Linked DNA regions of Homo sapiens: regions 1 and 2 are each linked to region 3. Evidence: fine-mapped expression QTL. A gene starts in region 3. Each other region holds a variant in brackets. All regions are shown on one strand. Distances are from middle to middle.

Region 1 (10,748 bases), 310 kb after region 3:
AAACAGATAAAAGTTTGGATCCAGCAAAAGAGCAGTTAGATTGTTTTGCTAGTCTAGATTTAATAGTCTCTGTATTAGGTGTCATTGAATGGTAAAAGTGAATGGAAATGCTATTCCAAAAGGAGGCCATCCAGATTAAAGAGTAAAGATAGTGCATTGGAAGAAGTCGTGGCTAAAAGGAATGAAAGAAGAAATGATTAATGCTGACTGTGACATTTTTGTTCAGAAGCAACAAGGTGCTGTGCAATACATACTAATTTGGGAGACAGAAAACCAAAATTCTATTTGTCTTTGCCATCAAGTAAGCAAGTTATTTTACTTATATGATCTTGATTGTTCATGTGTAAAATGTGGATATCATGTTATGTTTTATTCAAGGTCTCAGATATTCTGTGAGACTCTGAAAAAAGGTCTAAAAGTCTATAAGCAGCTATTGTGTAGCAGGTGCAAGTTAAAAGATGAGTAGGTGTAAATAAGAGGGGACTTAAACGTTTGTGGAACAATGTAATTAAATGATAAAAACTATTAACTCTGTTTTTCAACATAACTCCATCAAGTTCAAGACCCTTTTGTAAGCAATGATAGCAGTCATTTAGACCATCCCTGAAGAACTGAGGGCCCTGGCAGTTTAACCGTGTCAGTGCTGTCTTTTTTACATTAACTGAAGAAAAATGGGCCCCCTCTAAAATTTAAGATTAGGAAATGAAGTCAGAAGGAGCCAAATCAGGACTGAAAGGTGGATGCCTAATGATTTCCCATTGAAACTTTGCAAAGGTGCCCTTGTTTGATGAGAGGAATGAGCAGGAGTATTGTGGTTAAGGACTCTCTGGTGAAGCTTTCCCAGGCATTTTTCTGCTAAAGCTTTCCCAGGCATTTTTCTGCTAAAGCTTTAGCTTTCCTTCTCAAAACACTCTCATAATAAGCAGATGTTACTGTTCTTTATCCCTTCCAAACAACTGTTGCCATGACCTTTGCTCTTGACTGGTCCTCTTTTGCTTTGAGTGGATCCCTTCCACTTCTTGGTAGCTAGTGCTTTGATTGTGATTTGTCTTCTGGATCATACTGGTAAAGCCATGTGCAGTTCTTTGAAGAAATGCTTCAGAATCTTGATCCCACTTGTTTAAACTTTCCATTGAAAGCTCTATTTTTGTCTGCAGATGATGTGGGCACACATTGAGTGGAAATTATTCAACTTTAATTTTTCATTCAGAATCATGTAAGCTGAACCAAGTGAGATGTCTTGTCTGTGGTATTGGCTATTTCTGTTGTTAATCGTCAGTCCTCTTCAGTTAGGGCACTAACAAGATTAATTTTTTCCTTGTCAATTGATGGGGATGATCTGCTGCTGCTTCTGTGAGGGCTTCATCTTCAGAATCACCTCATCTTTTCTTAAAATGAGTTATCTATTTGAAATTTCTTGTTTCCTTGGGGTATTGTCCCCATAAACTTTTCGTAAAGCATCAGTGATTTCATTATTCTTCCACCCAAGTTTCACCATAAATTTGGTATTTGTTCTTGCTTCGATTTTAGCAGAATTCATGTTGATCTGATAGGGGCTTTTCGCAAACTGATGTCTTACCTTTGTGGTGCCTTAAACAAGATTCTGTTGAAACATGTTATCACAAGTTAGCACAAGTTTATTTTGGTGCAGAATTTTTTTCTTGAAATTCTTGCATAGTTTTTCCATGATACACATTTTTTATGAACTTTTTGAAGACTCCTTGTAGGAGTAACAGAAGTACTTAGGGGTTTCATTTTTTAAAAACAAACCCTTTCATATCAATACAAGATATGTGGCCATATAAGAAACAAGCTTGGAGGTTTCCTGATCAAATGAAGTAGCTATTGATGCAGTGTTCATGACTGCCCAAGTAGAAAACCTAATGAGTAGTCAGAAATATGGTGGTACTGAAGAAAAAGAGGAGTGATATTGCTGTTACTTTTAGTATAAGAATTTAGCAGATTTGCTTCACATCTGTTAAAAGTTTCCAGCCTGAAGAGCCTTTGACACCAAGGATTAAGCAGTCAAGGAGTTCATTCTAATTTTAATATCAGTTTATTAATCTTACCTGTTTATTCATTTTCAGAAAGATACTCAAAGCCTGAGCTCAAAAATCCTTTTGATGTGTCTTGGGGTCTTTGTATAATGGATCCTGGTGGATCATGTTTTCTTATACATAATGTAAATGATACTGTCCTACTCAGGGTAAGCTTTACATTAAACTTAATTTCCTCTCCTTTTCAGATTGTTAAAGGAAATGGGCTGGCAGGAAGACAGTGAAAATGATGAAACATGTGCTCCCTTAACTGAGGATGAAATGAGAGAATTCCAAGTTATTAGTGAACAGGTAAGAAAACCTGAATCATACAACTTCACTTTTAAACTGCCCTTATTTAGAACAATATAATTATATGTAAGCATGGAGTGGGGGAGATTTAGGAATTTATCACGATAGGTCAGAATTGCTTTTAAAAAAAAAAAGAGGGAGGACAGGCTTTTGCTATGGTGTCCAGCTGGCCTCTAGAACTCCTGGGTGCCAGGTGATCCTCCAACCTTAGCCTCTGGAGTAACTGGGACTACAGGCAGGAACCACTGCACCTGGTTGAATTGACTTTATAGAAGTCTGCAATAGTGACTTATTTAAACTATTGGGTGTGCAATAGTTAGGAATTAGTGTAAGTGATGTCTATGGATTAGTCATTTTCCAGACCTTTTTTGTTTTGTTTTTTGTTTTTGTTTTTGGCTTTTCTGGGGGAGGAGCAAGAGTGATAAGAAGTAGAGAGTGTTAGTAGCTTCCTAAGTAACTTCATCTTTTATCCTTTTCTTGCACAAGAGTATTTCATATTCTAAAACATCTTGCTTAATGTCTCCCTAGTTACCTTTCTGAAAGAGTATTAGGGAATTTTTGTTAGAGCATCAGGAAGTTGAGATGCTTTTTTTCAAATCGATTATTTGTTTATTTAAAGAGTTGGGGTCTCACTCTGTCATCTAGGCTGGAGTGCAGTGGCTGGTCATAGCTCACTGCATCCCCAAATTTCTGGGCTCAAGCAATACTCTTGCCTCAGCTTCCTGAGCAGCTGGGGCTACTGGCTTGTGCCACTACACTGGGCTTATTTTCTGTCTTTAAATTGTTTCTAATTTGGGCCAACTATCTTTTTTCTTCTTTGATGATGTTTTGACTCAATTCTTATTTATTACCAACCTTTTAGTTATGATTTCTCATTTTCAGAAATAGAGAACTGTATTTTTTCTAGTATCTTCATCTCCGGTTAAACGAGACAATTTTGTAACTTTATATACCTCATTCTACTTTACAAACTATGAACAAAGCAGATTGGGGGGTGTATTAATTTAGGTCAGAATAATAAAAATAACAGATACAGCTTAATGGTTTCTGATTATATTCTGGTAAGTCCCTGAAGGTATTTATTACAGTTGTCACTTGAGGCAATAAAAATGTGGGAAAGTTTAGTACCTTAATCAGTGTGACAATTATTACTCACATCTACTTTGTCTGGATCCAGAATTTTTTCAGAAATATCATTACTTGTGTAGTTTTTGGGTTAGGATACAATTTTATTATATTCATGCTTATATTATTACAGTAGGTTTGTAACTCTTGAGGGATAATTTATTTATTTTGCTGTTAACATTTTAGTTACAGAAGAATGGTCTGAGAAAAAATGGTATTTTGAAAAATGGCTTGATCTGTGACTTCAAGTTTGGACCGTGGAAGAACAGCACTTTCAAACCCACAACTGAGAATGATGACACAGAGACAAGTAGCAGTGATACATCAGATGACGACGATGTGTGAAGGATTTCCTAACAGCTTTAGAAATCTTAGTGTGATACATCTCTCATACAGTTTGGGGTGAATTGTAAAAATGAAGAACTATAATTTATGTAGTGAAATACCCCATTAGAAGAGGATTTTTTGGGGGACTTCAATATGAAGAAAACCAAGAATGTTTTGTTGGGCTGTGTTGAACATTATTTCTTTGTAAATGAATGTTGTAGGAATGAGGACTTGGGTTGGTCCAACATTGACTTTCTTCATCACTGCAACATTTCTCTGACTAGCAATGTGACGATGTAACAAATGAGATTTTCTCATTTAATAATAAAAAATTGTGTAATGTTTTGCAAAGCTTCTGTCTTAAAATGTCCAGGTCTTAAGAAAAAAGGCAGCTTACACTGTTTTGCTTGCAGAGTCATATCTTTTTCGTACAATGGAAATCCTCAAGTCCACTTTGTGCGGTCTCCCTCTCCTTCCCCCAAAAAACAACAACAACAAAACAAAAACCAAAAAGGAAAATGTAGCATGTTGGCTAAAACTGGAGCAAAGTGCACTAAAACAATTTCCTGAACTCACCTGTTGTACTATTCACCTTTTAAACCATAAATTGCTCTTTAGCCATTTGTAGTGCAGTAAATGTTACAGGAAAAGACTTGGCACATTTTCTTCCAAATTTTAAGAGGTGATTTTCAAAAGCTTTATTGGGGTATGTTGTCAGACCAGGGTTTTCAGAGTTGATGGAAAAGAGTCTTGTGAGAAAACTTATTTTGATAAATTATTACACACGCAGAAAAACTGATCACACTGACTGGATCTGTCCACGACATGGAAAATAAACTGGATTTTCAGAATATTGTTGTTTTCTGTAGTGTTCAAGGTATTGTTTCTAAACATAAACATACTCTAAACATGCTTTATTCACTTGTTAAAGTCATACTTTTAAAAGTAATACCTTACTAAAGATGGTGATTACTTTTCCGAGGTCAGAAAAGGAAAGCTAAGCGTTTTCATTATCAAATACACAAGCTTATTAAATGAATGACTGTTAACTACTTTATTTTCATTTGCACATTAATTTTGGAATTGTTTCTGTTTTGCTGCTGACGGAAATACTATTTTGGCTCTGTGTATATTTGTATTTTGATTTTTCTGGTTTGTTTACCCCCATTTGCTTTTAGCTCCCCCTTATGTTTAAATATATTCTAACTTATGTAAAGAGCATAATCTTAGAGCAAAAATACTTGAGGTTTTATGTCAGATCTAATCTTAAGTGTTTGTTGTTTTTTAAAAAGTGTTTTCTCAGATGGCTGCAGTGTTTTTGCTATTTCTGCATAAATACCCTACCTGGACTCCCCAGTTTTCACCAGAAACTGTTATTTTTTTTTGTTGTTGTTCCCACTGAGACTGATGGTGATGGGGAAATTAAAAACAACACACTAGCACACTCCCACAAAACTTGAGGAAGAGTTAGAATGG[T/C]AATAAAATATTAAATAGACCTTATACTTAAAATAAGGTTTCACTATATAATTTGTCACAATTCAATCTAATCAGCTAAAGTTAAATGTAGTTAGAATTAGCCACAGGAGAATGTAAAGCATGCTTTGACGAAGCTATCGGTAACACATATTGAATGTCTTTGAGACTCTTAGATTGTACTATTTGCTTAATAGATTAATGAAATTTATCAGATACAACCTGTATTTCCAAAAACAAGCTAGAAGGAACCTGAGGAATGTGGTTTACATTTGAGATCCACCTTACTGTGTTTTCTACTTTCAGAAAAGATTCTGTAGTTTTGGTTTTTGGCATCTTTCTTATACTCAGTTTTTTCTGCCTTAATTCCCATTTACCAGCAGTTAACTCATGTTTATTGTGCTTTCATGCATTGTGATATGGAATGTGTTTAGTAATTTACTCCTTATAAATATGGTAAAGTACAGTGGTATGGTTATTCTATGCATTAAGTTAATGACATTAATAAGCTTGGTTATGAGGGGTTGGAGCCATACATGTAATTTAAGAGAACAGTTAAAAGTGTAACATAGTTTTAGCTTGGTGTCTAAATAATGGGCAGCTGATAAAACAGCTTGGACCATATTGTTTTAAAGAGAGCCTACAAGCACAGAAACTAGTTATAGATCTAATGTGGAATTGCTGAACTCAGAACTAGGCCATGGAAGTCTGAAAAGCAAATATGGCTGTTTCAAACTCATTTTTTTGGCAGCTTTTTTATTTTTAACACTTTATTGAGGTATAAATTGACTTGAACACACAGGTAAAACATACAGTTTACAGTGTTTTGACCTACAACTAAGTGAACATAATCTATTATTCCCCCGAATTTCTTGGTTCCTTTTAAGTCCCTGTCACTAATTCTCCACCCCCCTCTCATTTTATTTTGGTATAAAATGTAATTAATGAGCAAAATTCTTAAGGTAATGACTTAAAATAGCATTTCAAAAACTATTTGCTTGATTTTAGTATAAGGATTAGAATATTTCTGCAGATAATTTCTATTGAAATTGTTAATCTAAAATCAGCTTGACTTAATCAGATTTATATTAACAGAATTCAGTATGTTAAAGGATCTGGTTCCCCCAAAATACTTTGTCCTTTTTTGCTAGTGTTTATGTATACTGTTAGAATGTGGTTATATAAACCTTTTAAATTTAGGAATCTGTTAAATAACTTGTTTTAACACCCCATCCGTCATCATCCCTAATCTGATACTGGAGTCTAAATACATGCTCCATAATCATGCAAACTAAGTTGAATCTAGATGATGAGGGTAGACTGGGTGCGGTAGCTCATACCTGTAATCCCAGGACTTTGGGAGGCCAAGGTCAGCAGATCACCTGAGGTCAGGAGTTAGAGACCAGCCTGGGCCAACGTGGTGAAACCCTGTCTCTACTTAAAAAAAAAAAAATACAAAAATTAGCCGGGCGTGGGGGCATACACCTGTAATTCCAGCTACTCATAGGATATTGAGGCAGGAGAATCGCTTGAACCCAGGAGTCGGAGGTTGCAGTGAGTTGAGATCGTGCCATTGTGCTCCAGCCTGGGCAACAGAGTGAGACTACGTCTCAAAATAAAAAAAAAATGATAACTAGGGTAGAAAGGATACACACTTGTGAAATATTTCTATAAAGTGAGATTTTTATTTTGGCTTACACAATAAGGGATGTGTTACTAGGGCTTTTAAATGATTATCACTAAGAGTTGGATATTTTAACTTTTAGATAGTTAAGTTTCCTGAGGTTATAAAAGTTATTTGGCTGTTAGGGGAACGACAGGACATATCAAGCAATAGAAAAATCCGTGAAAGCCTCCAGATGCCGCAGAGATGCTTCAGATTCTGGTTTTTGTTTTGCTACTTAATATTTCCTTTCTTTAGGCAGGGCTGAATGCTTGCACTTAAAACGATGGGACTCAGAGGACAGCTGTGATTGTTTTAATATTTAACTATGGGGCTGGGCATGGTGGCTCACGCCTGTAATCCCAGCACTTTGGGAGGCTGAGGCGGGAGGATCACCTGAGGTCAGGAGTTCAAGACCACCCTGGCCAACATGGTGAAACCCCATCTGACCCAGTCTGTACTAAAAATACAAAAATTAGCTGGGTGTGGTGGTGCATGCCTCTGATCCCAGCTACTTGGGAGGCTGAGACAGGAGAATTGCTTGAACCTGGGAGGCGGAGGCCATAAGCCATGATTGTACCACTGCACTCCAGCCTGGGTGACAGCGAGACTCTTGATATATATAACTGTATAACTATATATATATAACTATATAACTACATATATAACTATATAAAAACTATAAAACTATGTAAAACTATATATAAGACTATATATATATAAAACTATATATATATAGTTATGGGACACGTGGACCTGAAACATTCGTAGTTTAGGACTTGAGAATGTGTTGTAATTAAGAGGTTTTGTAATTGTGAATTTTTGTTCAGTTGTACAGTTAACTTTAAGTTCATTCTGCCTACCCATATGGATTCGTTTTGTAGAACTACTCTGGCATAGTGATTGAAGGTACAATGTATTATATCATTAGGTCTGGTTGAAGGACACTGCTGAAGCATGTTCCATGCAGCAGTGTCCTAACTTGCAATATGTAAGAGCATGTGTAGTGGTGGGGCCCAAACTTATCTACACCATTGGTATCATTGGGGAGCTTCCCCAATGTGTCCACCATCCCCCACCAACACCCCAGATTGTGGTTTAATTAGACTGGGGCGTGGCCTGGGCTTTAGAATATTTAAAAATCCTGCCCCCAAAACCCATTCTTTTTTTTTATTTTTTGAGACAGAGCCTTACTCTGTCACCCAGGTTGGAGTGTAAGTGGCGTGATCTTGGCTCAGTGCAACCTCTGTCTCCTGGGTTTGAGTGATTCTCATGTCTCAGCCTCCCAAGTAGCTGGGGTTACAGGTGCGCACCACCATGCCCGGCTAAATTTCATATTTTTAGAGATGGAATTTCGCCACGTTGGACAGGTTGGTCTCGAACTCCTGACCTCAAGTGATCCTCCTGCCTATGCCTCCCATAGTGCTGGGATTTACAGGCATGAGACACCGCGTCCAGCAACCAGTTATAATGTATTAACATACAGTATGGTGGAAGTAGTCACACCTGGGTTTGAAACTACATTTTTTTTCCCCCTTTTTATTTGTGCCTTTTTTTATTTTTTATTTTTTGAAGACAGAGTTTTGCTCTGTCACCCAGGCTAGAGTGCAGTGGCATGATGTCTCCTCAATGCAACTTCTGCTTTGTAGGTTCAAGCAATTCTCATGCTTCAGCCTTTCAAGTAGTTGGGATTATAGGAGTGACCACCATGCCCAGCTAAGTTTTGTACTTTTAGTAGAGACAGGGTTTTGCCATGTTGGCCAGGTTGGTCTCAAACTTGGCCTCACGTGATCCGCCCACCTTGGCCTCCCAAAGTGCTGGGATTACAGGCGTGAGCTGCTGCGCACAGCTTTAGCTGTGACTTTAATCCAGATAGGCAACTTAATATCTATTCGATAGTGTTATTGTGAGGATGAAAACAATAATGAAAAGCACCTGGTGTAAATCCTGGTTCACAGTAGGTGTTCCATAAATTTAGCTAATTTGCTACTAGTGACAATTCAACTGGACCTTTCCCAGTAGCAGGCAGTACCTATTTTTAAAAAATTAGCTGTTGTTAAATAGGTACTATTCTAAGTGGTTGTAAATAGTGTGAAACATCTGTTTGAGTTCTCACAGTAAATTACAACTGTTTTACGTCTGCTTTGTTTGGCATTACGCTCAGTTATGACCTAAGCTTGATTTTATTCAGCTGTTAAAATGAGTTTTATCAGAGATCTGAAATGTAATCATTGAACTTTAATGGTAAATTATAGTCCTGTGAACTAATTGCAAGAATGGGTTTCCATGCTTTCAAATCTTTCAAAATAGAATTGCCTTTGCTAGTCTCATCACTTTATGCTTTTTGTGGAAATAAGGTAGTTAAGCACATTATTAGGCAAGAGTTTAACTTGATACTCATACTCCATTTCTCTCAAGGTTTTCCCTCATTTTCTGGAATGCTAAAGGTGAACAAAGATAATGGGCTGGAGAATTGTGACAACAGTATATAACTTTTTCCCCTCACTTTTTAATTTTATTAAAGAGACAGGGTCTTGCTACATTGCCCAGGCTGGTCTCAAACGGTCCTGGGCTCAAGCAATTCTCCTGTCTCAGCATCCAAAAATGCTGGGATTACAGGCATGAGCCACCGTGTCTGGCAAGAGTATATAACTCTTTTGCCTTACTTCAGTTACTTAACCTTTTTAAAATTGGGCACTTGATATGCTAAAACTAGTTGTCTGGTAGACATTAATATCTTGAGAAAATGAGATTGTATGTTTGTGTCAGCTTTTGTGTATTATTATGTATGTAATTTTTACTTAGATGCCAGAATGTACCTTTCCTCACTAGGGAATATAATTTTGTTGTAGCCTTAATGCCATTTGAATTTTTTTTTTTTTTTGAGACAGTTTCACTCTGTTGCTCAGGATGGAGCACAGTGGCATGAACGTGGCTCACTGCAATCTCCGCCTCCCGGGTTCAGGTGATTCTTACTCCTCAGCCTCCCGAGTAGCTGGGATTACAGGCATGTGCCACCACACCTGGCTAATTTTTGTATTTTTAATAGAAATGGGGGTATTGCCATGTTGGCCAGGCTGGTCTCGAACTCCTGGCCTCAAGTGATCTGTCCACCTCAGCCTCCCAAAATGCTAAGATTACAGACGTGAGCTACTCCGCCCGACCCTAATGTGATTTTCTTTAATGGCTGGAGAGAAGCAAAAACTAGCAGAAGGGAAAACAATGAAATGTCAATCTGTATACTGTAATAAGCAGGTACAGTTGCGTTACGAGAAGTTGACTTGGTGAGGTGAAGAGATATTTTCTCCCTCAAATTTGGACTTAATGTCCTGACATTGTTTAGCTTTTGAAAAGTTATTTTGGTTTATTGACTATTAGAGTGAGTCATTTGACAGAATGAGAAGAACCTGGCTACTGAGAAAGTGAGTCTAGGCAATTCTGTATCCCCACATAGAGACATAGAGACTCATGCCATCTATTAAGATGTCTGAAATTTCTTTTTTGAAGATTATTTTCTAAACCGAATGTTGGCAAACTTTTTCTGTAAAGGGCTAGATGGTAAATATTTTGGACCATGTGATTTTTGTTCCAATTACTCAATTAATAGTACCAATGCAGCCGCAGACAGTAAACAGGTAGGTGTGTCTTTTCCAATAAAACAAGCTGGGTAGGGACAGTAGTTTGCTGATCCTCATTATAAACATTAAAAACTAGGCCTTTGGAAACTCAAGGAAAGTGAAAGTTGGGTTGTCATATTTGATCTTTATACCATTACCTGTGTGATTTTTCAGTCTTGCAAAATGCTTCCCCCT
Region 2 (10,748 bases), 33 kb before region 3:
GGATTCTATTTTAAGATACAGATCCATTAGCTAATGCTTTCACTTGTTTCAGATCTTGCAATGGGAGGGATCGACTCGGCCCTTTAAAAATGAGTGATAGTACATGGCTAACGTCAGAAATTCATAACCCTCTGGCTGTGGGACAGTATGTCAACAATTGTTCCAATGGTAAGAAGGCATCATGGGGCTGTGAGATGAGATATATCAATGGCTAATTCTACTCCTTTGTCATATGACTGAGTGCCAAGGGCAGTTGAGTATAACATATAATAAGCTAGTCAAGTCCTTAAGCAACTCTCACTTTTGGGGGATGATATTAGAGAGAATTAGGGGAAATCTTGATATACATTATTTAGAATTGTTTAATTTACTATTTTTCTTCTGATTTTGCAGTGAATATAGGCAATTGATAACTCCCCTTTGATCATTATTATTTTAGCATTTTAAAAATAGAAATTATTATGTCAGTGCTTCAATATAGCCTTATAGATTAATGGCTAGACTAGTATCTGCTTTCTGTTGCTAAGTTTGTGAGTCCCTATCTATATCTTCTTTAGGAGTTGACTTTCCCATAGGTAAAAGTTTGATTGTTTGAATACATTTAACATGGGCTTTGGCGTTAGTGAGAAACGAAGTCCAAGCCTGACTCTTTTATTAGTATTTAACCTTTAACATTTCTGAGCCTCTATTTCCTGATATATAAAAAGTAAACAATAAAACATACATATATGTTTATTATGTATGTTGGTAGATATTATCTAAACATATGTTATTATATATGTTGTTTATGCAAAAAGTAATAAAACATGTTTTATATATGTCTTTTTGAATATTTTATTTTATATATTTATGATTTACCATATATATCTGCAAATATATATACGTAAATAAACTCTGACAGTACCTGGAACATAGTAGTAATTATTTTGATCATGTTTTGATAATTTAGAAAAACAGACATTGAGTGTCATAATTCAATTCTGTTTTCCATGACCTTGTATAATGGCTCTTTTTCTAAAAATGATGTGCTTGTTCCTAGACAGAGCAGCTAATGTCTGTTATCAGGAATTTGATGTGCCTGCAGTTTTCCCTATAGAACTGAAGCAGTATCTTCCAAACATTGCCTACAGCTATGACAAACAAAGGTTCGTTTGCTAAAAGAGCATTTCATATCTTCTGCTTATGCTGTACTTAAAAAAATATAGAAGAAAAAGCTATGTAGAATTTGGGGTAAAATTTTTTTTTTAGTGAAAAATTATAACTCAGATTTTTATGTTCACACCTTAACGTGTTAATGTAGGCTTATTTGAAATTTAAAATTTTCCTTTAAACTAGCTCATTCTGTTTATTTTTACCCATTTTTATTCTATGGCAATACTTCATAAGTATCCACCTTAAAGTTTTTTCAAATAATTCTGTTGTTTTTCCTACCTACAAAATCTTCAAATATATCTTTACTTTAATCATTTATAATATCATGTTCTCTACCTTATAAGAAAGCATCCAATTGAAGAAAGAGGCCAAATTACACTATGATTCCTTTGCCAATTTCACTATTAGGTTCTTAATAATGAAACTAAATAAAAAAGGACTGTATTCAGAAGACACATATTTTAACATAGCATTTATTTCCTGTTCATTCAGTGGAAAGTCTACTGAGAATATTCAAATAACAATTTTAAAATATAGGTAATTCTGGAGAGCTAAGAGTTCTTTCTTAACAGTGCTGTAGGAAGATACAATCTTTGTATTATTTTGTTGAGTTGCTAGCAAACTTTATTTTATATAGGACCTATTAAATTGTCCTTCTAAGATGAATGACATTTAAAACATGAACTATTATTTATACTTAAAACTTGAGGCCAGACACGGTACCTCAAGCCTGTAATCTCAGCACTTTGGGAGGCCAAGGTGGGTGGATTGCTTGAGCACAGGAATTCGAAACCAGCCCAGACAACATGACAAAACCCCTTCTCTACAAAAAATACAAAAATTAGCTGGGTGTGGTGGTGTGTACCTGTAGTCCCAGCTACTTGGGAAGCTGAGGTGGGAGGATCCTTGACTTGGGAGGTGTATGTTGCATTGAGCTGAGATGGCACCACTGCACTGCAGCCTGGGTGACAGAGCCAGATCCTGTCCCAAAACAGGAAAAAAACAAAAACCAAAAACTTGATAACTTTTGCTTCTCTGCATGTGTATGTTTGTGTGTTTAACTATTAGCTTTTCTTAGCCATATACTCCGGGGCATGATGTTATTAGAACTTTGAATGTATATATGTAACAATATCTAGGCTGGGTGCGGTGGCTCATGCCTGTAATCCCAGCACTTTGGGAGGCCGAGGCGGGCGGATCACAAGGTCAGGAGTTTGAGAACAGCCTGACCAACATGGTGAAACCTCATCTCTACTAAAAATACAAAAATTAGTCAGGCGTGGTGGCACGCACCTGTAATCCCAGCTACTCAGGAGGCTGAGGCAGGAGAATCGCTTGAACCCGGGAGGCAGAGGTTGCAGTGAGCCAAGGTCACACCACTGCACACCAGCCTGGGTGACAGAGTGAGATTCCATCTCAAAAAAAACAAACAATATTTTATGATGTCCAGAAAAAAGCATTTTTTTAAAACTCCAACTAATTTTAAGTAATGTTTTCATTTTTCAGGATATAAGATACAAATGAATGCAAGAAAAACTATAATGTCATTTTAAAATCCTTTTTGTGATACTAGTTTTGGGGGCCTAAACTTAGAAACAATGTTTTCAGAAGAAGTAGTCAGTTGTATAAACATTGATTTGTGATTTTTTAAATGATATAGATATACTCTTTAGAATACCTGCATCAGGAATAAGAACTATTTCCTCATGGAAATCAAATGCATAAACTAAAATGGAAGGAACCTGAGTAAAGTTACCTCTATAAAAGCCATCTTGGTTATATTAAAAATATGAGCTTATATTTGTTAATGCTCTACCTTTTGTATATCTTTTTGTTTTCAGCCCACTTCGATGTGTTGTTCTTGTCGCACTTAGGGACATCAATCAAGGAGAAGAGCTTTTTTCAAACTACTACACAATTGTCAGCTAACTCTGTGAATCAGAAATTATTAGGTTTTCTACTCAGCTATTAATTCTAAGTGTTTTTTGTTAATCACTTCTCTGAGTTCTACCTGTAAAACAAATATTTTGAGACTTAATTGGAATAGGAATTTCTTATGTTTTTGTTGATATTATATTTATGTTCCAATTTCATGATAAAAGCTACTTGCTTCATTACAATTTCAAATTTGTAATGCAATTCCAAGTTTAATTGGTTTTCACCTAAATACACAATAGCTTATTAAATTAAAACCTACTCTTTGAACTTATAATTTCAATTTTTCTTTTGTTTATTTTGTAAGCTCTGTGGTGGTTTATAAAATTGTAGCCAGGCATCAGCAGTTCTTGTAGTACTGCTGATGTGTACAAACTTCTGTAAAAACTTTATTTTTACAGAATTGAGTAAAAAATACCTATTGTGTTGCCATGAGTAAATTGGTGTGTCTATGTATAATGTAAAGATTGCTCTAGCTGGCTGAGGGGAAAATGTGAGGTCATTATTACTATTTTCTTTACTCTTTGAACATTTTCACACCAAAGAAAAGGTGGAAAAAAAGTGCAAGATAGTGTTGGTGGGAGGAACACTTATTCCCCGTGTCTCATGTCTTCATGTGGAGGGCTTCCACTGGTTAATGTTCCTAGCCTCTCTCTCCACCCACTGGAGGGAGATTGACTCCCTGATTATGTTTGGAGAATAACTAGGCACCCATGTCCTATATACCCTTCTAGTTCCTTCCCTGTGGACTCTGGCTGCCAGCAGAAAGAATGTGTCCTGGCAGTTCTCTGCCTTGTGCAGAGAATAGCCTGTAGCCAGCCCAGCCAGTGACAGAGTGAGTCCAGAGGTGTAATATATTGGCAGGCCAACCTGGCTGCAGCCCTGAAGCTACCTTCCCGTTTTATTAGCAATAGTTACTTTGACCTCCATCGACCTGACTCCAGCTCTCTCAGTTCCAAACTTGGATAGGAAGGAGGGTGTTCTTTACTGGATCCCTCAAAAATTCATGGAACCTATATGACCAGATTCTGATTACCTTCACTTCCTTACCACCAGCTTTACTCACCTAGTTTATTGCAATTTCAGTAGCCTCTCAATTGCCTTCCTTGTTTCCACTCCTGTCCCCCTTACAGAACATATCACCAAGTGTGATTCTTTTAAATGAAAGTCAGGTATTGACATACGTCTGCTCAAAACCCTCTCCCTATCATGGAGTAAATGCTGAAGTCCTTCACATGCATAACCTGCTCATGACCTCAAGAGCTCCTCTCCTTTCTCCCCTTGCTCACTCCATCCCAACCCACACCTGCCTCCTGGCCACTCCCCAAACCTGCCAGGCACATTCCCAACCAAGGACTTTTGCACTTAGTTCTCTCTGCCTGTAAACATCTTCCCCCAGACAGCCACATAGCTTGTTCTCTCCCTTCCTGTCACCTCAGTGAGGAGCGTTGCCTCATCACCCCACTGAAATTTACAATCCCTCACTGCTCCCAACCCTGACATATTCCTCATTCTCTTTAGCACTTACCACCAGCAAGCTCAAAAAGCGTACCATAGATGGAAATTATGGCCAAAATGACTTCTAGTAACAGATGTACTAGATTATCCTGCTTCCACAGGCTTTTCCGTCTCCTAAAGCCTGAAAATACTCTGAGCTCTCACATGGCACATTGTTGCATTCTTGCTGTATTCGGAATATGTGTGCTTGTCCCTGCTCTGAAGGCACTTCTGTGCATGTGTCCACCACAGAGCCCTATGTGCTAAGGTCCTTTCGTGTCTGACAAGGAAGGGATGTGGTTTTAGTCAAGTAACCAAAGCAGAGGAGTCAAGATTTTTGCTTTCCTTTTATCCCCTTCTTGGCCTTGTACAAACTTTGGATATTATGGGCAAGCTGATCACTGCATCTTAAAAATGGAACTACATAAAGCTCTGGTCAGAGGAAATGAAATATGGGGACAAACTTGTGAAATAATGGCAAGATAGGAGCTTTAGCTTAAAAAGATGTTTAGGAAAGATAGATATGACTACGGTCAAACTATGAATCGTATGGATAAGGAAGACTAGTTGACCATAAATGTAGTCTGTCAAATAATAATAATATTTGACCAAATTTCAGATCTGTCTGTCTTCATAAAAGACAGTTACCTAGAACAGCGTTTGAAACATAATAAATGTTTCCTGAATTAAACTAAAAGTATAATCCTTACTTTGGGACTTCTTTTTTTTTTTTTTTTTGAGATGGAGTCTCAGTCTGTTGTCCAGGCTGGAGTGCAATGGCAGGATCTCAGCTCACTGCAACCACCACCCCCAGGGTTCAAGCAATTTTCCTGCCTCAGCCTCCTGAGTAGCTGGGGTTACAGGCATGCGCCACCTCGCTCGGCTGATTTTTGTATTTTTAGTAGAGACGGGGTTTCACTATGTTGGTCAGGCTGGTCTTGAACTCCTGACCTCATGATCTGCCCGCCTC[G/A]GCCTCTCAAAGTGTTGGGATTACAGGGGGACTTTTATTATAGATGGAAATTATAGAGGATTTAAGGAAAATATTTAATCTACCAACTTCACTATCTATCATATATCTTATTTACTGCATCTAAAACCAATTTAACAGTGGTATAATATCTATCTATTTGCTGTAGCTTAAGATTCATTAAATAAAATATCTGTATTTTTGGCAAATATTCACACAAACCAAGAAAAAAAGATTCCCAGATTTTTATTTCTGGAACTGTACACCAGGTATTAAAGTACAACAAATACAAAATAATGCTCAAAAAAATCAGTGTTTATGTACAAATATTAAAATCAATGCAATAGCAACTTCCTCTTGAACATCTGATACTGAAACTTGTTCTGATTGTCACTAATTTATCTCATACTCACAGGGTACTTATTTCAAACTGGGACAATTGGAATCACTGGTCATCTAAGAGGAATATTAATATCTACCATATTTAACAATAAAACTAATAGTTTCCTCCATTTAGTGAAAAAATTAGGAACTTTTTAAAAAACATAGTAACGTCAATATTTTATAAATTATTTCAATTTCCATTTGTAGACAATGTGCTTTGAAACTCTGGGCAAACAATCTCCTTGGTGGTCAGGTTTATTTGTTAGTTTACATTCAAAGTTGAAATATTCACTAGAGACTTTGGTTAAATTAAATAGTATCACTATGCTCTATTAGATCTGATGTTCTCAAATATTTATGAGCCTCAACATTTTAAAAATTAAAAAGGAAATGATTGCACAATTCTTTGATCTAATTGTACAAATTTTAGTATTTTTTAAACAGTATTCTACATCCTTCAAGTAAATTCAGCAGCTGACCATGACAAGAGGAAAACTAAACATTTAAAAAGCTAGCATGAAAAAGATGAAGTACAACTAACAAATGTATTGCTATAATCACAGCACCAGTTACACTTCTAAATGAATCCACTGTCCTTTTCAAATTCCCTGTACATAAAAGATATATCAGCCAACACTGCAACTGCTCACCATGAATTTTTGGTTTGTTCATAAGAAAATAATGGGGCAAAGGAAAAAAAAACAAAAAGAATTTATCACAGTTTGTTATAAGAATTGTGCTTAACACTTGATAATAAAGGCATTATTGTTTCTTCACATGATTGCAAATCCGGTTGTTTTCTTGCTTCCAAATGCAATTCTTTTAATAAACAGTAACAAATTCTCTGTTAAGATGTTTAAACTGAGAGAAAAAAAAAACCCAGTAAATCCAGCTTTTAAAAGAAAATTCAATAAATAGCTATTTTACATGGATAAAGTCATAGTGGTACAATTTATGAATGTCACATCAAGCATGCACAAAAATGGTATTATACATGGCAGAAGTAGTCAGAAAATATTGAATTAGATCTAAAAAGATATGAAGAATTTACACTTATATACAAAAATCTTGCAAATTATTGCCTCATTTTAACAAGGAATTAAAAGTAAACATTACCAGCTAGTTAGCACTCTCTAAGAGGCTAAAATCAGATTGACATTTAAAAATCTATTAAACTAGCTGGAATTTATTTTTCTCTCATACCATTTTCTGGATTTTGGTCAAAAATCTTTATTTAAATAACTAAAGTGTCCATTCAACTTGCTGATAATCAAAACTTTAGATAAGAAACACTGTTTCCATCTTATATCAAGACCCCAGCAATGCATAGATAAACTGAATATATTACTGCATCAGCTACTGAGAATGGGCATGTTCATTTAAGTGCAACTGGTATTAGCATTCAGTCATCTTTGTGTAAATTATTTATACAGACCAGCCACTGTAAACCCAGAGTGAAAATTAAGGTTATAACAATGGAAGATTATGGCCAGTATCTTACTAAATTATAGAAAGTGTACTGATTTTTAATAAAAGAAATAAGGTTCAAAGTTTAGCACAACAACACAGCAATAAGAAGCTGACAACTTGGATAAAAATACAAGAAAGTAACACAGAGCCCAGGCTACCCATTATTTACTGTGTGCATACAGGAATGCTATACTTCAGATGTATAAATTAGAGACTGATTTTAAGTTATTAATTTAACTACTTTTTGTCCACTGTGCTAAACTAAATTTTATACTAATGTGCTACTGCGTAAACACTTCAAAGCAATCTTCATTAAAATGCTGCAAAGAAAAACAAGAATACACATCATCCAAAACTAAGGATGTCATTGCAGTTCACAGTTTGTATAATAAATACCCTCCCTTTCAATCACTACTAAGATCACTACATCCTATCTACTCATCAGCACAACCTTGAAGCAACTTATACTTACAAATATTAGCAATGCAGCCAAACATTTGTTTTTTGCAAAGCAACTAGTAAAAATCAAGAATTTTAATTAAGACGGTGCAAACAACATAATTCTCTATTTTAACAGTACTACAAAAGCAAAGATTACATCCTAATACTGTATTACATATTGTTTGATTCACCTTATAACTTAAAAATGCATGTTTATAGCACAAAAATGGCCAAAGTTTAGGACAATGGCTTCTCATTCACAATATTTGGAATAAAAATAAAACTGAGTTTGAGATACATCTGAACATCTATCAATTTTTAAAACTTAAAAGTGGTAATGTACCATTCTATTTCAGATAGGAACTCACATTATTCTTGCCAACTGTTCAAGCTTAACAAAAAAGCTTAAATATACTTCAAGGTTCTACTGCATTAGGTATAAAATCTAGAAGTCCCTCTAAATATTAACACTTTGAACTGCAGTGCTACAAACAACTTAAAAGATGTCCCAAAATGTAAACCATTGAGTGGCAACATCCTAGGCTTTGTAGACTGTGCCTCTGCAAGTCGACTGCCTCAGGATAAACTAAATTATCAATGACTGGTATGATTTTTAAGATTACAATCTTGACAATGGTGGACAAAACCCCATCTGAGTACCACATCTTCAAATGCCAAAACTGTAGCCAATAAATGAAGTTACACAGAAATCTCCTGGCAGTAACATGACCAATTCTGTGTAAGGTAGCCCTGGTCTAGAATTTTGAAACAGGATCCAAGCAAGCGTCTTCATTATTTGCACACAGTTCCTTGTGCTGGCTTCCATAAAGATGGACTTGCTGTTTTGTAAACTGAAGTGCTCTAGTTGAATAACATGAGAGAAGTTTCCATTTTTAAAAAATCCTTGCATGTTTGTGCAGTTTAAAGAAACCTACCCCTGCTTTTATTAAGAAAATAAAACCAAAAAAATGCTACATTGAGCAGGGATCGGGATCGGTACCTGTAAACATTGTTATTCCACTGCATCCATTACGGCAAAAGGAATTTACACAAAAACAGGCCACACCATTCAGTTCAGAACATCTGTGCTGGTTTTGAGCTGGTGGCCTCTGTCTACAGGTTTTAAAATTGGGAGTGAGGGCAGTGGGGAACACAAAAGAATAGAAAAAGAAGGGAGTGGGGAAGAGGTATTGGGAGATGAGGAAGAGAGAAGCAGAGCTTAAAGCTGCACCACAGAGTTCAATCTTAGTTCCCAACTCTGCTGATCATAGTTCATTTCCACATTTATGGATTGAAAAATGAAAATACTCTTGATAAATCAAGATATAGTTCTATACATACTGACATCACTGATGTCATAGTGAGAAAGGTTCAAACTTCCAGTGAAAGACTATGCAAACCTGATAGCTCCCCTCAAGTTTACTGGTGCTGCACACGCAGTTCCGGGATCCTCACTCAGGTCACTCAGAGTGTAGGGCCGCGTGCTGATGCAGAGCATGGGCACTGATGAAACCATTGGTCTCGTTGGCAGAGAGACTGCCAAAGTCAGCCACAGAAACAGCCATTTTGGCACTGGTGATGTGATGTGTGTGATTTTCAAAGTCCACACCCAGGTTATTTACAGAAACTTCATTCATAAAGGATTCAGGGACGGCAATGCCCATTTTCAATCTTTTTGCTGGTCTCTCTGACTCTTCACTGCACATGTTCATAGGGTTTAGCTCCGAGTGATAAAATCCAGTCTCAAATAAATTAAAACAATCACTTTCCCCATTGCTGGGCAGGGTGAGTAACTCTTCTGTTACAACAGGCACATGATTAACTTGTCCACGGGGTGTGTTGCCCAGTGGAGGAAAGCTATCATCCAAACAATTCACATCTGTGGGGTCGCAGACGGTTGCTACACTGTTGGTCAAAGCTAAAAAGGAATGGAAAATTGTTTAAGTAAGTGGTCCTATGACATCAAACAGAGGACACAATTTTGCAACAAACTGTACTAAATGCAGAAAGGTCTTCATTTTACCTGTCAAGTCACTGGCAGTGAAGGAGTTGAGAATGTTTAGCTGTTGATCAGGAATAGGCTCAGGCCGGTTAGAAGTTAAGGCTGAAGCATTTACCGTCCCACCCAAAGCTTCTGTTTCATCTACTAAACGATCCATATAGTCCCTGAAAAACACACCCCAGTAATTTTATGACTATATATTACAGTTAAAAGTAAGTCTTTGAAGGCAAGGCCACAGTACTTACGTAACTCCAGGGTGATGGTTATATCTTTTTTTCCCAAATCTTGTCTGTTGAGCAAAGTAATCATAACGTTCAGATTTCTTCCACATATAGTAGAATGCTACACACTCAGCAACTGTCCTAGTTCTCACCTAATGAAAAAGTTGAATTTTTAAAAAACCAACAAACTCAACCATTTTTTTAAGCAACTTTTCTTTTCCACAACACTACAACTTCAATCCATGGGTCTTATTTTCCCATTATATAGTTCTGAACACTTTTAATAAATTATAAAGTTCTGAACACTTTGATTAGTGGAATGCCTTTACATTTAATAATGAGGCCATTTTCGAAAGCCCAAGGTTTTTTTTTTAAAAAAATCAGAATGTATTAGTTTATAAAACAAGTGTGTATCCAGAAATTATCTTACACCTTCACTGAAAATCTTAAACACTAGCATTCTTTACTTTTCTTTACTGAGCTCTGTGATTTTGACTACAGTGAGGGTTCTTAACTTTGGATTAACTAACCCCTGAGGGGTCCATAAATGGATTTCATTGAGATCTATTAATTCACAAAATTATATTTAGGTATATTTTTCTGGAGAGAAGGAATGCAGCCTCATCAGATTTGAGTTCCACTTTCCAAAAGAGATTAAGAACCCTTGGCAAATGGACCA
Region 3 (10,748 bases):
CTTATGATAACAACAAAGTGATTTAAGCAGCATGGTTTTAAAGAAACATTCTAATAGAAAAAGTCAAACTTGCTTATCATTTAATACATCTGTCTAAAAGCAATAGCAAAATATCAGAAAGATTAAATTTCCATGAATGGAAGATTTCACAAGAATCGACTATACACTAAGATGCACACTTCAGGATAATATAAATTTTACTCAAATTCTAACCCTCAAATAAAGACAGAAAACACAACAAAAATCTGCTTTATAAAACAAATATAAGTTTCTGTGAAGCAGCTATACAGCCATTCAGCTTTTAAAAGCATTGTATCACTTTACATTTCTCTAACAGTACTTCAAGTTCCCTAGCATTAATCAGACAAGCATTAAACTGTAAGACTTTGCTTTACTTTGGATTACTAACAAAGTTCTTAGGATTATGTGTAGGGAATACAGAAAATCACATCTGAAGGTTTTGGAAGATATATCCATTGCAAGTTGTTTTGGATAATTCATACTTGTTTATAAAACTATAATATCTTTTAATAGCAAATATGAAGTCAATAGGAAACTCCAAAAACCAAGAGAAGAAATGACTAAAATCCATAATCCCAAAGAAATGAAATCAAATTTATAAAAAAACAGGATTTTCTCCACTTGTTTTACTCTAGTATCCAATTCAATTAGACCCGTAACCCTCAGAGCAAGGAAGGAAAGTATCAGAAACTGAGGTTGGGGGAAGGAAGAAGTGGATGGAAGCATACTCAACATAAAAAGTTTAATCTGTTCTTAGTCAAGCTACTGAATATTTTAAAATTTCAAACATTTCAGGACAGTGTGAGATCATTACCAAAACACTGAACTGGGCCAAAGATTTTTCACTATGGAAAAACCACACACATAATTCATTATTTTTGATTCTGGGTTCAGAGAACTCTAATTAGTTCTAAAAATACAATTTCTACAGGACTTTATTTTTTGGCAGGTTTACATTATGTTATCTTCCTTAATGTTGAAAAATATCTGCTCATTTAAAAACTTGTTGATTTACATGTGGTTTAATTTAAAAAGAAATATAGGCCGGGGTGGTGGCTCATGCCTGTAATCCCAGCACTTTGGGAGGCCGAAGTGGGGGGATCACCTGAGGTCAGGAGTTCCAGACCAGCCTGGTCAACATAGCGAAACCCTGTCTCTACTAACAATACAAAAAAATTAGCCGGGCATGGTGGTGGGCACCTGTAATACCACCAGCTACGTGGGAGGCTGAGGCAGGAGAATCGCTTGAACCTGGGAGGTCGAGGCTGTAGTGAGCCAAGATCACACCACTGCACTCCAGCCTGAGCAATGGAGCAAGACTCCATCTCAAAAAACAAAAAAACAACAAAAAAGAAATAAGAATATTTATTAATTAGCTCACATCCACCATTACAAATTTTCTTTTTTTGAGGAATTCTTGGCAAGTTCCATGGTATGCCAAAGAGGCAGAAATGAAATAGATGCTGACTCTTTCACCTCTTTGGTAGCAGAGCTCCTCTGGGCTCTTCTGTTACTCTTCTATCACTTGGCACAACAGGCCTCCCCTTTAACATGGAAGGTATTCAGTAAGGGTCAAAAATCGAAGGACCTGAGGGTCTACTCCCAGCTTTGTCCTTGGCTTTTTGGGACCTAAAGGAAGTCATTTAAACTTTCTAGGTCTAGCTCCTGTCTTCCATTTGCAAAATACATGGGGATGACTGAAAGGACCTCAAAAGTCCCTTCCAACTCTAAAATTCTCTTTTTAAAAAACTGGCTAATTAATCCCAGCACTTTGGGAGGCCGAGGCAGGCGGATCACTTGAGGTCAGGAGTTCAAGATCAGCCTAGCCAGCATGGTGAAACCCCATCTCTACTAAAAATACAAAAAAATCAGCCAGGTGTGGTGGCGCATCCCTGTAGTACCAGCCACCTGGGAGGCTGAGGCAGGAGAACAGCTTGAACCTCAAAGGCGGAGGTTACAGTGAGATTGCCCCATTGCACTCCAGCCTGCATAACGTCTCAAACAAACAAACAAAAAACAAAAAGAGGCTAATTGATTAAAAACAGGTTACACTGTCTTTTGGCTTATTTAGAGTGCAACTTCTTAAAAGAAGTCAGTGATACCAAATGGAAAAATTCCATTAATCCAGCTGTTTGACATCATGTATATATTTTCCTAAAATCAGTTATAACAAAAAAGTTCATCTCAAAATTAACAAAAATTTTTAGAATTTTAAAGATATAGACAGCTATTTTTAAAATAGCTGCAAATTTCTTCTACTTGGTGTTATAATACCTTAAATGACAGTCAAGTGAGGCTCTGAAGGTGGAGCAGATACAAAAAGTAATAGTGTAAGGAAACTGACTATTCACTCTATGGAAACAAGTTGTAATGGAAGATTTAGGAGCTCATCTGTGCTCCACCACTAACGAAAGTTATTTAAAAGTCTCCTCAACTGTAAAATAATGGAGTTGGACTAGTTCAGAGGTGCTTTTCCTGTAGACTAGGAGAGGGAAGACAGCAAAGAGGTAAGCTAGAAAGGAAATGAGAAACTGAAACAAAGATACCTTACATGATTAGCACATGAGGAAAGGTCCTTATGGACCTGCTACAGGGATTCTACAAACCCCAGATTGTGTGTAATTATGCATATGTGCAGAGTTCTGGGACACATCCCTTGCTTTCATTAGATCCTGACAGGGGTTTCTGACCTCAGGAAAGTTAAGAAACACTGTACTAGATGACCTAAGATCGTCTCAGCTCAGAAGTCAAAATCACCCTTTTTCTGTGCCAAACTTGGAAGTTCTGTCTTTTTTATTAAGGTAGCTTTACCTCTCAACTTCCAATTTTAACACAACTCATAGACATTTAATTATGAAAAAGAAACAACGTAAGAGGAGATGAGGGGTTACAGTTAGTGAAGTAGTCCCAGAGTTCTGACAAATTACTCAATCTCTAGAAGAAACCGAAGTTAAAATCTAAATTGCTAAAGTTGGTGTCAAGTTAATTTGGGATTAACTGTTTCAGGCTCGGAGGAAAAATAAGATATGTAATAATTAAAGCCATATTCCTTAAAAGAACGCTTGTCTTAGCAACTTTGTAACAGTTACTTTTTCAACATGCAAGAGAAAACAAAGAACAGTATAACTGTTTCTTCCCCAAACTTTACTAAATGCACACTGAAACTCTTAAAAATCAATGAAGAAAAACCTGCAGGATACATTTCTATTGGGAATCCTTTAGCAACAGACCTTTGAGCCCACATTACCCACTGGGAACCACCGAAGACGTAAGAAAATAGGACAAACCTGGGCTCGAACTTCCAAAAGAAGCCTAGGAGAGAGAGAAGAAAACGTGAGGTTAGATCGCACAGCCAGGGAAAGAGGCAGCGCCGGCAACAGGGCGCAGAGGAGGCGGAGTCGAGCGCTCCTCCGCAGCTGCCAAAAGTGCAAGACGTAGCTTCACTCGAATCGCTCCCGGCCCCTTTCGGGCCCCCTCTTGGCTGCCTCGCCTTCCTCCCCGAGTCCCAAGTGTACAAACTCACAGACCCGGGACGAAGCCCGGAGTCTGAGAGGCAACTCCAAGTCGCTTCTTGGAGCTCAGCAAGTTTCCAAGCAGAGAAGCAAAACCCAGAGCAGTCGGCTGGCACCATCAGTCCCCCATCCCTGGCATCTCCGGAGTCCTCCAAATCCCACCCGGCTCTCCGAAGCCCCAAACAACTCGAAACGTAACACCCTTTTCTGGAACGAACTCGCGTTCTGAGCACCTAGTTCGCCCCTGGGGCCCGGGAGCCCCAACTCCGAAGCCGATCTCTTCCCCTGCAGCGTAGGCCAGCTCGAATCGGACACTCGCCCCCAAACCAAAGCGCGAGCCCCCCATCCTCTCTCTCGAGTCCAGAGATGCAGCTCCTCTCAGTTCCAGGGATGCTGGCTCCTTCCAGAGTGTTCAGTCCCTCCCTGGACCGTCAGCGCGCCCCCCGCCCCAGCGAGCTCCAGCCCAGGGGCTCCTGCCACACCGCCCCCTCCCCCCAGCTCACCAGTCCCGGGGGACATGGCCGGGGCAGCTTCGCTCGCCCAGCCTTCCTTCCTCCAGCCCAGAGAAAACTGGAGCTATCAAGCCGCTCTCCTGGAGAGGGCGTCGAGGGTCTCGGTCTGCCCTTTAACCCCAGGGGCTCCCGCACCTCCCGGGCTGCGGGGTGGGGAGTCCCGCTCTTCTGAGAAGCCCGGTGGCCCCGCATCCCGCTCTTCTCCGCGCCCCCAGCAAAGTGAAGCGTGCGGCTCCTTCGCGCCGCAGCCCGGGCCCGGTGGGCCGGGGGCACAGCGCACGACTCCCGCAGGGCAGTGGCGCAGCCCGCTCCCCTCTTTGCGATCCGGCCGCGGAGGGGGGGCTCCGCCGGTTTCCACCCACCCGGGCCCGGGGAAGAGGCGCGGAGGCGCCGGCGGCCCGCGTCAGCGACCGGGGACACGGCACTGCCTCGTCCCTGGGGCAGGGCTCACTGCAGCCGGCCGCCACCTCCGTCCGGCTCGGTCGCCCGGCCCGACCGGGGCCGGAGCCGCCGCGGCCTAGTCCCGGAGGGAGACCGCTCCCGCGCCCGCTCCCGCCCCCCGGCCAGCCCCGCCACGGCCAGTCGCCGCCCCGCGACCCCCGCGTCGCCACGCCGCCCCTCATGGGGCAGCGGAAAGAGCCCCGGATCCCCCAGGCTGGCTCGGGGGTCGCGGGGAGCCGCCGGGCGCCCGCTCCAGCCCGGCTGCTCCTGCCCGGTTTCCCTGCTCACCTCCGCCATATTGGTACCTTTAGGGCGAACGAGCAGCGCCGAGCCCAGTCCCCGGATGGGGCGCCTGAGCCAATCGCAGCCGCCGCCGCCACCGCCGCGGTCCGCCCGGCACCCGCCCGGCGGCGGAGGCGGCACGGCCCCTTATAGGGCAGGGCGGCCCGCGACGCCCCCGGCCCGCTCGCAAGCCGACGCCGCCCGGCGCCCCTCGCCGCCCCCGCGCCGGCCCCAGCCGGCCAGACCCGCACCCGCGCGCACCGTCCTTCTCCTCCTGGCTGGTGTAAAGTTCCTGCCGAATTGGAGGCAAGTGGGGGACGGACGGACGCGCGGGCGCGGGACAGACCCACGTCCAGCCAGTGGAGGCCCAAGAGCCGGCGGGCGCGTCTGGGAACCGACCCACAGACACCGCGGCGCGGGAGGGCGTGCGGGAGGCGGGCAGGAGACTTGGACTGGCAGGCGATGTGCAGGGGAACTCGACAGACTCAACTTCCCTAAGAGGAGGAGGCGATCTATGAAATAGACAGATGTGGGAGGAAGCCCTGGGAAATGGGAGAAGAGGCTGGTGGATGGCAGAGTCAGTCCAGAATGAGAGGACTACAGTCAGGCACTTTGCCGTTTCCACGAAGGGACCTGCAGGAATGGGAGATGGAGACCGGTGTACACTGCTCACGGAGTGGACAATGGAAGTAGACATTTGCCAAACAGGTTATTGACAGCACAGAAGAAAAGACAAAAGATCGACAGGGCAGAGAAATGATGCTGAATATACTTGTACAGTTCAAGAAGATGCCCAAAAAATATAAACTGTGCTGTTATCCAAAAAAAAAAAAAAAAAAATTAGACCAGTTCTAGGAATTGTTCATCACCAACGTGTCTTAGGGGATGACCCAGAGATACTTGATACATCTGTTGAAGGACAGGAACAGCATATCAAAGGCCCTGAACTGAGTCTCAAAAATTCTACCCCTCACTTCCCTCACTTCTCCAAAAAGGCCAAACGTTTGGGTAGGATCATAAAAGGAAACTAGTCCCCTGTGCAAGTGGATGGGTGAAAGACGGAGCATAAGGCTTAACAGGAATACCTGCTCGTACATGTTCCTTATGACCATTTGCTCTTCATTGGAGGAGATTACTCTCCGGAAGGTCCACATCCACACTGAAAGACTTTGAGCCAAGTACACAAAAATATACACTAACGACTGATTGGAGAGTTAGGTCCTGCAAGAAGTTAAAGTAAGGTATGGAGTTGCCCTAGCAAATTTGGAGGACACATTGTCCTAAAGTGGGAGGCCAATTCTATCTGTGGAAAAGAAAGTCGGCTGTAAGGTACATGAATAAGTGAGATGCAAATACCATCAGGAATTATAGCAGGACCCTACAGGAATTTGGAGAGAGTGATCTCAGACACCAGAGCTCTTCTCCCAGCTTTTTTCTAAAACATACGTAATATTAAATGATAAAGACAAGTTTTTAGAAGCTAAAACTTTCCATACGTCATACTTTTAATCCAAACATGAAAGGTCTTGATTTTAACCTGGGGTCCCTCCAATTCCCTTATTGCTGGAGTGCATACTGAGGATGAGGCTGGAGACTGGAGGTAGGGAGAGGGTTATTTTCAAATTTTTTGCCAAGGCATCTCAAAATCAAGCTTATGCCACGGGTAAAAGTTATTTACTTATGGAAATTTTAGGGAAAAATCACTCCAACTATTTCTAAACATCATAAAGACATGGAAAATTACACTTTCCCTGCTGTGAAAGATATCTTTCGACCTTTTGTCCAGTCAAATAACTCAAAAACAGCTAAACTTTGAAACCAGACCTTGGCACACATTGTATGTACTGTCCTCAATGAGGCGTTCAGAGTTTTCAAAGTAAAAAAAAATGGCTTGAAATTAAGTACAAGTGAATAACTTTAGAAATGACGCAGTGAGCACGCGCTGTGGACAGAACCATGAAACAGTGCCCTGAGCAGCTGGACCGCAGTCTGAGCCACGTGAAGAAAGTGTCTCCAACAACCTGCCTCATACATTACACTGGGAAAAACATTTTCTTCCCAGCAAACTTGGCTAATCCAAACTATAAATGTAGTCTTAGATTATATGTTTTGCCATAACTGAAATATACACAGATTTATTCACTTTCATGAATCTAGTAATGTTTCTGTAGACTTTCTTTATATTCAATTGTAAAGATTTTGTATAGGCATTTGTAATTTTGATTGTTATATGCTCCCTATTATAGAACGTAGTGTAGGAAGTCTGAGTCCATGGTATTAAATAAGGATTCAGACAAAGATAAATGAAGCTAAATTTATTAGCAGTTGAAGGTAGCAGAGCTACTTTCCCCCACCTGATCACTAGAGAAAGTTTATCACTCAGTCTTACATAACACATTCCTTTATGATAAAGTGTGTAAAGTCTATATGTAGATGGAGCTCTCATTCTTTCTGATTGACAAGACTTTCATGAGTCAGTACAGATTAAAAATCCTTGTGACCCAAGGAGTTTAAATTAAAATACTATTACTTTTTACTTTTATTATCCTGTAACTATGCAATACAGGGCATTATATAGAAAGTGCTAGATGCTGGGCACTGTGGGACCACCATAAAAATGTCCTTGTCCCCCAAAAGCTTACAATCTAAGTAATTTCCATAGGTGGTAAATGGATATGTGAGCAAGGAAAACTAAAAACCATAGTAACCTCCTAAGGAGAACCAAAATGTCATAGATCCTCCAACCATCTTTAGAAAGGAAATAAATCAATACAGCTTTATTTATAAACATGTAATTTTAGAGGCTTCCAGTAAATTCATACAATAAAATAAAAAAACATATATAAAAAAATGAGGACCAACGAAACTAACTAGACTAGGAGGTTAACACCAAAGAAAAAGTAAGGACAAGGATCTGCAGGTTATGAGGTATTAACACAATACAATAGTTAAGCCATAAATGTAGAGCTTTCTGGCAGCCAAAGCAAAAAAGGTGAATGTAATCAGTTGCTTGCTTCTCATTGGAGAAGCATACAAATGTAGGAGAAATATACAAATTCTTTTGGTAACTGTCTATGAAAGTTGAGAGCACAATATGAATGACCTACTGAAAGCAGTTAATGGGGCCACAGTAATGCAACATAGATATTTAGGCTTCTGCAGATTCCATCTAACCCATGGGAAACTAATAAACCAAAGTTAATGTCTCAATCTCAAATGCCCATAGTAGTCAGGCAGGCATAATGAATGAGTGAAGCAGGCTAGTGTAGACAAACGCAGGAGTAATAGCAAATTTGGAGACGTGTCCTACTTAAAGATGGAAACCACTATGCACTACTTGGGTCAGTTTCAGCTTACTGGCCCAATGTTTCCAGTTTCAATTTTCCAAGAACAGCTGGAAAACTGAATTTTTATGTTATATCTCCTGGTCGTAAAATTTTGTCAACTAATTTTTTAAAAATTTAAACACAGTGTAGATCAAATAAATCATGTTAAGTAAATCATATTTAGCCTGGGAGCTTCCAGTTTGCGAACCTGATCTAGAACATCATCTTAGCGTTACTTCTCAGCATAGCTTGTAAGACTGTAATGCCAACAGTTAGACCCAGCATCAGGCCAAACTACTTGCATTTTTCTAAATTTATCTACTTCTCCTGCGTGATATTCAATTAAATATTTTTTGTTGGAATGAATGGCCACTCTCTGAGAAAGCTAACTGATCATAGTAAGTTTTGCCTAAACAAAAGATTCTTAACAAAAGAAAGATGATCTGCATGGTAACTTTAAAAAAGAGAGAGTTCTCACAGTTCAAAAAAGGTTTCAGTTCGTTTCTAAGAAGGGAACTTGGTCCATATACATGAACATATATCCAGCCTGTGAGTCAGGGCCATTCTTAAAATGAGATGGATGCATCAGGCTGACATAGCTGTGCAAGCATACCCAATTGGAACTTCCAAGTCAATGACTTTAAATTGCAGGAACATCCTCAAAAGAATTTGTAATAACTCTATCCCTTCTTATGTATTCCAATTGACTTCTAATTTTGTCATTATAAATTTAAATGGCTGCAAAGGATGTACTTACCTTTCGTAATGATGGTCATTTAAAAATAAAGCCATTATATAACACTTAAAATGTATGCAATGGAATCTAAATACCATAACAATTTGATATTTCATTATTCTTTTAAAAAGACATAAACATGTTTCTTGAATGGTATGAAATTTTACATGATTCCTTTTTCTCCTTGAACTCATATTCCCATTCTACTTTCTCCAAAGAAGTGTAATATGCTTTATGCTTAGAAGTCTTTTGTTGATACCCTACAATCTTTATCTGCAACAAAAATATCCTTGTAAATTGATAGTAAAGAGAAATAATTTTCCTCCAGATTGAATTATCAGTACAATTACTACTAATTTACATTTGATCTAAGCAATATACATGTATTACAAGTTTTGAGTAAAGCTTTTTGAACAAAAATTGCATTGGAAATCAATCTATTGATAAGATGAATAGGATCTTTAAAAATTAATTCATGTACCCATGGATGAATATTACTTAATGCTAGAATGGGAGTTTAACATCAATTTTATTCTTAGTCTTTATTTATACAGAAGTAAGGTTTGAGAAACCATATTCATACACAAATAGATAGAAATGGAAGGGTTTTGTTACTAAACCATCACTCAATTTGTTGATCTCCTTAGTAATATCTCCTTAGTAATACATCATGTTATGATCTTCTATCAAACATTATTTTTAATGATCTATACGCTGATGTTTTAAATGTGTTCCTTCAACTTTGTTGAAAGCTAAGAGTTAAAAGCTACCTGACTTGAAAGAGGATTTTTTACAAAGCTATTATAGCTCATCACTATAATTCACTTCAATTTTGATGAAGATTACCAAAAAAGCCTTTGCCAAGACTTATCAAATGACTGTTAATTGTACTGTTTCACGTAGAGGCAATTATTTAACTCAACAGGCTCAGAAAAGGGAAGGAAAATGGGAGCAGTGTTAATTTTAAGACTCTCTTACAAATACAGTTTTGTTAAATAAAATGTTTATATCTTATCACACGTTTTAAATACATTTTTGTCAAAACCTTGGACTGGAGCCCTAAATCTTTCACTTGTGGAAAATGTCTGCCACATAACCTAACAAGCAAACGCTGTCCCTTTTGTCAAACCAAACTGCCAAGTCTGACTTGAAAAGTCTGATTTCATTTTTCAGTTCTAAGAAGCCTATTAATTCTTATTTTGAGATATATTTTAAACCACTGAGAAATAAATTACAAAACGTATTATAAGATAGATTACTAAAAGCATGCAATTCAAGATTAAAATGATGTCAGATCTAACCGAATTAATTTTTTCATTTTATAAGTTATAAAAAGAGTAATCAATACGCAGTTCATCACTTAGCTTGTTATAATACAATGTAGCATGTGGCTACAAGTAATGTTATGTATATTGCAAAGAATATGATAAAAGGCATGGTATTTCTTTGGTAAACAAGTGTTACGGACTGAATATTTATGTTCTCCCCAAATTCATATGTAGAAGCCCTAACCCCCAGTGTGGCTATATTTGGAGATGGGGCCTCTAAGGAAGTAATTAAGATCCCCATGCTACCTTCTTGGACTTTGCTGCTCTCATTATATTCAAACTTTGGCCACTTTCTTGGCCCCTGCTTCCTGGGTTGTCTTTGTTTTCTGGCTCTCAGCTCCCTCCTAAGTGGTAGCTGGTACTTTGGGGGCTTAACTGTGCAAACCTGCAGCACCTTGAACTTGCCTTTCCCAGATGTTCTCTGACCTTGCCCACTGCTTCTTGAGTACTGCAAACAACACCTGCCATTAACTCTGAAGTTTAGACAGGCTTTCCAGGATGCCAGGGGCCAGAGCAGAGCAGGAAAAGGGTGACCTTGGTCCAATAGGATTAGTGTCCTTATAAGAAGGGACACTAGAAAGCTTGCTCTC

Which allele goes with the higher level. Alleles are on the strand shown, and positions count from the first base shown. SD is a standard deviation of normalised expression in the study named. Not every link is listed here.
In carriers of allele T in region 1, the expression in esophagus mucosa of the gene that starts at base 4,804 in region 3 tends to be lower than with C alone (moderate effect, 0.40 SD a copy in GTEx).

The links. PIP is the estimated chance that this variant, and not a neighbour inherited with it, causes the effect.
Region 1: its variant is the best candidate, but not a certain one, in a credible set for the expression of MIER3 in esophagus mucosa (GTEx, PIP 0.52).
Region 2: its variant is the best candidate, but not a certain one, in a credible set for the expression of MIER3 in whole blood (INTERVAL, PIP 0.54).

The regions. Positions count from the first base shown.
Region 1 is chr5:57,258,935-57,269,682 of GRCh38, forward strand. It overlaps GPBP1 (GC-rich promoter binding protein 1), which reads left to right. Exons shown (of 12, transcript NM_022913.4): 11 at 2,246-2,348; 12 at 3,660-5,739. The coding sequence ends at 3,818. Among named protein-coding and RNA genes, the nearest start is that of GPBP1, 90 kb to the left of the region's middle. The variant T/C (reference allele first, on the strand shown) is at 5,277.
Region 2 is chr5:56,913,822-56,924,569 of GRCh38, forward strand. It overlaps SETD9 (SET domain containing 9), which reads left to right. Exons shown (of 6, transcript NM_153706.4): 4 at 53-168; 5 at 1,040-1,145; 6 at 2,994-3,527. The coding sequence ends at 3,081. MIER3 (MIER family member 3) reads right to left here. Exons shown (of 13, transcript NM_001297599.2): 11 at 10,094-10,221; 12 at 9,870-10,012; 13 at 5,782-9,764. The coding sequence ends at 9,307. Among named protein-coding and RNA genes, the nearest start is that of SETD9, 9.6 kb to the left of the region's middle. The variant G/A (reference allele first, on the strand shown) is at 5,555.
Region 3 is chr5:56,947,320-56,958,067 of GRCh38, forward strand. MIER3 (MIER family member 3) reads right to left here and starts at 4,804. Exons shown (of 13, transcript NM_001297599.2): 1 at 4,775-4,804; 2 at 3,309-3,333. The coding sequence starts at 4,783. RefSeq lists an enhancer at 3,636-3,725 and silencers at 4,296-4,465, 4,526-4,635, 4,666-5,085.